2 linked regions of the Homo sapiens genome follow. The protein of the gene in region 1 interacts with the protein of each later gene in a pairwise test. Each region holds a gene or a part of one and is shown in the gene's direction. Other genes may lie near its edges.

Region 1 (3,825 bases):
AATTCCGATATTTGGAGATTGATAGGTAATAGAAGACAGGTTTATTAAATCCTTCATAGAATTCCATAATAATAAAAATTATATCCATAAAACTGAAATCCAAATATTAAATTGTGTTTTCGATTTTGAAAAGGTAAAAAAAGGCAAATGCTAGTGTATACAGTGTTCTAGTTGGAAATGATTAGAATGTGATATTTAAAAGGTGACACGTTAATACTTTAATTGGCAGTTATACTTCTAGGATATGATTTTTGCTGATCATATCTAGGCTAAGATTTTATGTCATACAAACATAAGTGTTTACAGTCAAATCTTGCAACTCTTTATTGAGCAGACAGACATTCAGATCATTTTATGTTGCGTAATGCAGTGAATGTGTCAGAAAACCTCCAGTCTTGTTTTCTTTTAAAGCACAACGTGGAAGTTCTTGGAATACTTTCCGATGATGTAGAGACTGATACCGTAGCCCCAGGTGAAAACCTCAAAATCAGACTGAAAGGAATTGAAGAAGAGGAGATTCTTCCAGGGTTTATACTTTGTGATCCTAATAATCTTTGTCATTCTGGACGCACATTTGATGCCCAGGTAAACAAATTATTGTTGTTGTCATAGTGGGTTTTAATGTCTAAATGAAATTAGAATATCAGTGCCTTTTGTCCTGATTATTTGTGACATGCCAGTTAACCCATCTTAGTGTAGAGAAGGGGAATGGAAATATTATAAGCCACTTATATATCATAACCACAATAGGCACCTCATACAAGGTCTTCAAGCTGGTACAAGTGCTTACTGGATAAGGAGTATTCTTTGTAAGTTCCTTTTTATGTTTGATCTCCTGATGATACATTCTACAGTATCTAATATTCACTTTGACCAGAGCACAGTTACTGTGGAAGTCATGGTTTATGTGCTCATTGACAGCACATAGCTTTCCAGACAAGAAATCACACAGGTTTCCCTGTTATTAACAATCTAACCTCCCTGGGAGAATGACAGAGTAAGTGACTGGTGTGAATAACAGAATTTTTTAAAGTTCTTTTCTAAGGTATGACAACTAATCAAGTTAGATTTTGATGCCAGATGTAAGGTTGTTTACTTTACTGGACCTTGGATATTGAGAAATGGATAAAGCTGGATAAGTTTACATCTAGGTAGCTTCTGAGCGGTAAAAATTAGCTTAGTTCCTTGGGGAATATAAGGAAAGTCTTCCCAGATAAGAAAGTTGGCCTGCTGTCTTTTGTTTTGTTTGGAGATGGGGTCTTGCTCTGTCACCCAGGCTGGAGTGCAGTGGCGCGATCTTGGCTCACTGCAACCTCCACCTCCGGGATTCAAGCGATTGTCCTGCCTCAGCCTCCTGAGTAGCTGGGATTTAGGCGCCCACCACCACGCCTGGCTGATTGTTTTGTATTTTTAGTAGAGACAGGGTTTCACCATGTTGTCCAGGCTGGTCCTGAACTCCTGGCCTCAGGTGATCCCCCCGGCCCCCCTGCCGCCTCGGCCTCCCAAAGTGCTGAGATTACAGGCGTGAACCACTGCGCCCAGCCAGCCTGCCGTATTTTGAAAGTTGACCAGGGACTTGCCAAGAAGATAAATACAGGATAAGATACTGAAATTCATGCTTTGAGTTCAAGCAGCCTGACCCATCCTGTGAACAAAATTAGTAAGACAAACCTATCACCTCTAACACAAAAATCACTTAAGTTGATGTCCTAGTGAGATGGTAACACTAATTCTTGGGATTTATATGGCGCTTGAGAACATTGAATTCTTATTTACCCTAAGGCTAAAGATAAGAATGTGTGTGTTTGTTTGACAGATAGTGATTATAGAGCACAAATCCATCATCTGCCCAGGCTATAATGCGGTGCTGCATATTCATACCTGTATTGAGGAGGTGGAAATAACAGTGAGTTTAAGATAATTGGTTTATTTCTGTTTTAATACTGTTTTATCTTCATAATTTCTAATCAGCAACAGTGATGCACTTTTATTTCTACACCTGTTCTTAAAGATTATTTTATTTGGCATTATTCTGATTTTCTCATACTCTTTTCTTGGTTAGGCCTTAATCTGCTTGGTAGACAAAAAATCAGGAGAAAAAAGTAAGACCCGACCCCGTTTTGTCAAACAAGATCAAGTATGCATTGCTCGCTTAAGGACAGCAGGAACCATCTGCCTTGAGACCTTTAAAGACTTCCCTCAGATGGGTCGTTTCACCTTAAGAGATGAGGGTAAGAGCTTTTAAACTGACGTCTAGTAGTATATCCAGGATACCTAGCTTTGGTCATCTTCATCATCTCAGTACAGTACACATTGCAACAGGTTCACAGAAAACTTCGATTCACATTCTTATTCGTATGAGTGTTTTATGAGTTGAATGTATTGAACAGAATTGACCACGTGCTTTAGTAGTAATGCCAAATCTAGTAATGCTCTACGTGAAGAATCTTAATTTTGATGTTTTGTGAGTAGTGGATTTGGAGGGCTATTTTGTTTACTAAGATATTTCTATGATGTAATCCTTTGTAATATGTCTAGCGATTAAAAGGAACATAGAGATTGATTTTTTTTTTTACACCTAATTTTTCAGAGGTCTAATCTTTGTGACCTTTTGTGTGCATCCATTTCTGCCTACCTCTGGGTGACGCAGAACAACTAACATTCCCATCTTGGGGTCATGAAGTTCTTTGGCATAAAAACAAAATGATTGTTATGAAACGTTTCCTTATGAGCTTTTAATATTCCTGTCCTTTTCCTTTCCCTTTCCCTTTCCCTTTCCTCTTCCCTTTCCTTTCCTTTTTTTGAGATGGAGTCTCGATCTGTCACCCAGGCTGGAGTGCAGTGGCACCATCTTGGCTCACTGCAAGCTCCACCTCCCAGGTTCACGCCATTCTCCTGCCTCAGCCTCCCGAGTAGCTGGGACTATAGGTGCTGCCACCATGCCTGGCTAATTTTTTGTATTTTTGTAGAGACGGGGTTTCACCACGTTAGCCAGGATGGTCTTGATCTCCTGACCTCGTGATCCGCCCGCCTTGGCCTCCCAAAGTGCTGGGATTACAGGCGTGAGCCACCGTGCCCGGCCCAGCTGTTAATATTTCTAACTTAGATAACCATTTTAAGACTATAGAAGACTTTACATAAAACTTTATAGTTCCATTGAAATACAGAATAGTCATTTCACATGTTCATTCCAATTCCATTTAGCAAAAACTACTTTGTATCTACAAAGTGTCAGGAACTGTGCTAAGCCCTGGTGATGAATACAGTTCCTGAACTTTACATTGGATGAAATTGTATAAAGACAGTGTTTATTTTACTTTAAAGGCCCAGAACTCTTCTGGTTGATAGTAAAACTGGTTATTGGGTTTATCTTATTAATATAACAAAATGATAGTTTTAGTTTACCACTCAGAACCTGATAAAATCAGGAAGACAGAAGAAAAGCAATTAATGTAGCAGGAATTCTTAACCCTAGAATTATTTTTTCCTAAAAGCTAACTTGGCTTTAAAAAAAAAAAAAAAAAAAAAAAAAAAAAAGCTAACTTGGCTTTTAGGTTTTCCACAAGACCCAATGGGTTTTGTATCCTTTCAGTCCACAGGATTACTACCAGAAGGACGTGTTCACTGCACTGTAGTCAGTGGTGATTGCTGTGCCTTTTCACAGTTACTTAAGGATAGGTTTTGGGATTTTTTTTTTTAGCAGCTTTATTGAGATACAATTTCCATAATATGAAATTGACCTGTTTTAAGTATGTAATTCAATGAATTTTAGTATGTTTACAGAATTGTACAACCATCACCATATACTAATATTAGAACATTTAG
Region 2 (2,815 bases), on another chromosome or scaffold:
GCCTCAAGTGATTCTCCTGCCTCAGCCTCTCAAAGTGCTGGGATTACAGGGTTTAGCAACCGCACCCGGCCACTCCTCCATTTCTGTGCAGTGCCTTTCCTCAAAATTTCCCATCCCCATCAAGTTAATTTGGGAGAGAGCCAAGAATTCTTCGGGCACATAGGGGTGAGTCCCTCTACCCACCCTCAGTCCTCACCCCAAGTTGCCCCTGGCACAGAATTCCTTCGACAATCCTGAGTGGTTTTATCGGCATGTGGAAGCACACAGTCTGTGCTGTGAATACGAAGCAGTCGGCAAGGACAACCCGGTGGTGCTGTGTGGCTGGAAAGGTAGGGCTGCTTCTTAACTTGTGGCTTCTGGAGGAAACGCTGGGGTTCCTGAAGAGCTGGGACAGAAAGGGATAGGGGTCCTACAGGGGCAAGGTTGACTGCCGGCTGGAGAGACTCAGGGGTACCAGATCCTAGGCAAAACTGGGGTTTTGTGGCAGGAGACTGATAGGGCTTCCTTCCCAGGCTGTACCTGCACCTTCAAGGACCGCAGTAAACTTCGAGAGCACCTCCGCAGCCATACCCAGGAGAAAGTGGTAGCCTGCCCCACCTGTGGGGGCATGTTTGCCAACAATACCAAGTTCTTAGATCACATCCGTCGCCAGACCTCATTGGATCGTAAGTAGTCAGAGGAAGTGGGGTGGATGCAGGCTGTCCTGCTTGGAATGGGTTAGGGGCATGTTTCTAGTGGGGGTGGCCACTGAAGAGACCTGCCTTTTGGCTGCCTCTTCTTTTTGGGCTCAGGCACCTCCCATAGTCTCTTTGCTGATTCAGATTCGTAGGCATTGTTATTCAGTACTTACTGTACCTCGTATCAGTTACTTAGGGAATCCTCACAACAGCCCCATGAGGTAGGCTTCTTATCCCCCTTTTTGCAGATGAGGAAACTGAGGCTCAGAGAGGTTAAATCACTTACCTGAGATCACACAGCTAGTAAGTGGTGAAGCTGGAATTCTAACTCAGGTTCTCTAAGTCCCATGCTCTTTCCATGATACTGTGTCCATTCATAGCTCCCTAAGCTCTCCTTTTCTCCTTGGGTGGTTCCCTTCTGCCTGGGATGGTTCCCCTCTCCTTTCTGTGCCTCTCCACTATCACCTACAGCCCTCCTTTCTTCTGCCTGCCCCACCCCAGAGCAGCACTTCCAGTGTTCTCACTGTTCCAAGAGATTTGCCACAGAGCGGCTATTGCGGGACCACATGCGCAACCATGGTGAGTGGCCTGCGGCCCACAGCCTCCCTCCTGCCCTCCAAGGTTCCACAAGTTCTCACATCACAGCCTCCTCTCTGCTTCTCTCAGTGAATCACTATAAGTGCCCTCTGTGTGACATGACCTGCCCGCTGCCTTCCTCCCTCCGCAACCACATGCGCTTTCGTCACAGTGAGGACCGGCCCTTTAAATGTGACTGTTGTGACTACAGGTAAGGGGGACCAGGGACCAGAAAACAGCTCATGTTCCAGTGTTCCCCATGTCCTCCAATCCCTCCTGATTTCTCATGGCAGCTGCAAGAATCTTATTGACCTCCAGAAGCACCTGGATACCCACAGCGAGGAGCCAGCCTACAGGTGTGATTTTGAGAACTGCACCTTCAGTGCCCGATCCCTCTGCTCTATCAAGTCCCATTACCGCAAAGTACATGAAGTGAGTGGGGCTGGTGTTGGGAAGGACTAGTGGAAGTATGGGGGACCCTGGGGTGAAGAGCTGGTCTCATTTCTCCCTTCCTTCCCCATCAGGGAGACTCTGAGCCAAGGTACAAATGTCATGTGTGTGACAAATGCTTCACACGGGGCAACAACCTCACCGTGCACCTTCGCAAGAAGCACCAGTTCAAGTGGCCCTCAGGGCATCCCCGTTTTCGGTATGTCTCTCAACCCTCCTTCCCAGATTAACACACTTGTTTTTATACCTTTTCAACCAGTTTTAAAAACCTTAATTTGGGTCGGGCGCGGTGGCTCACGCCTGTAATCCCAGCACTTTGGGAGGCCAAGGTGGGCGGATCATGAGGTCAGGAGTTCGAGACCAGCCTGGCCAACATGGTGAAACCCCGTCTCTACTAAAAATACAAAAAGTAGCTGAGCATGGTGGCACATGCCTGTAGTCCCAGCTACTTGGGAGGCTGAGGTGGGAGAATCACTTGAACCCAGAAGGCGGAGGTTGTAGTGAGCTGAGATCATGCCACTGCACTCCAACCTGGGTGACAGAGCGAGACTCCATCTCAAAAATAAATAAATAAATAAATAAAACCTTAATTTGATGGTGGTTTTATGTCTGCCATTTCCATTTAGATTCAAAGAATCCTAAGAATAATGGTGGAGCAAAGCTTATTTTTCTGTTTTTTGAATCTTGTAAGGCATGGTGCCAAACCCAATAAATGGTGCCAAAAAGTCCTGCAGCTGGAACTAGAGCTAGAGTCTAAGGGTTCTGATCCTTAGCTCCAAGGCCTTCTCATAAATCCTTTGACACTTTCACCCTCCAACACAGTCAGTCAGTCTCTGTTTTTCTGGTTGGGTTTCTATATAAAACTTTCCATTTTGAGTAATGATCTTTCCCTCTTGCCTTTTCTTCTACATATTCCAATAAAGACCTTTTTTGTCTTCAACTCCTGTCACTTGGATTCCAGGACTTCTTCCATCCCTCATGTTTGTTCCTTACTTTGCCAGCCTCGGCCATTTCTGTATCCCCCTGCCTGGGTTTGCTGCCCTTTATGCTCCTACCTCACCAGGTACAAGGAACATGAAGATGGCTATATGCGGCTGCAGCTGGTTCGCTAC

Evidence for each region.
Region 2: the proteins of GSPT1 (region 1) and HINFP interact in a two-hybrid assay, tested with the Homo sapiens proteins (one large-scale study listed by BioGRID).

What each region holds. Positions count from the first base shown.
Region 1 is NC_000016.10:11,874,167-11,877,991, reverse strand, and holds part of GSPT1 (eukaryotic peptide chain release factor GTP-binding subunit ERF3A), read left to right. Parts: intron 1-411; coding exon 412-585; intron 586-1,816; coding exon 1,817-1,906; intron 1,907-2,062; coding exon 2,063-2,231; intron 2,232-3,825. UniProt on the Homo sapiens protein: GTPase component of the eRF1-eRF3-GTP ternary complex, a ternary complex that mediates translation termination in response to the termination codons UAA, UAG and UGA.
Region 2 is NC_000011.10:119,131,318-119,134,132, forward strand, and holds part of HINFP (histone H4 transcription factor), read left to right. Parts: intron 1-217; coding exon 218-329; intron 330-512; coding exon 513-665; intron 666-925; exon of another isoform or gene 926-980; intron 981-1,178; coding exon 1,179-1,256; intron 1,257-1,343; coding exon 1,344-1,464; intron 1,465-1,546; coding exon 1,547-1,685; intron 1,686-1,777; coding exon 1,778-1,902; intron 1,903-2,626; coding exon of another isoform or gene 2,627-2,766; coding exon 2,767-2,815. UniProt on the Homo sapiens protein: Transcriptional repressor that binds to the consensus sequence 5'-CGGACGTT-3' and to the RB1 promoter. Transcriptional activator that promotes histone H4 gene transcription at the G1/S phase transition in conjunction with NPAT.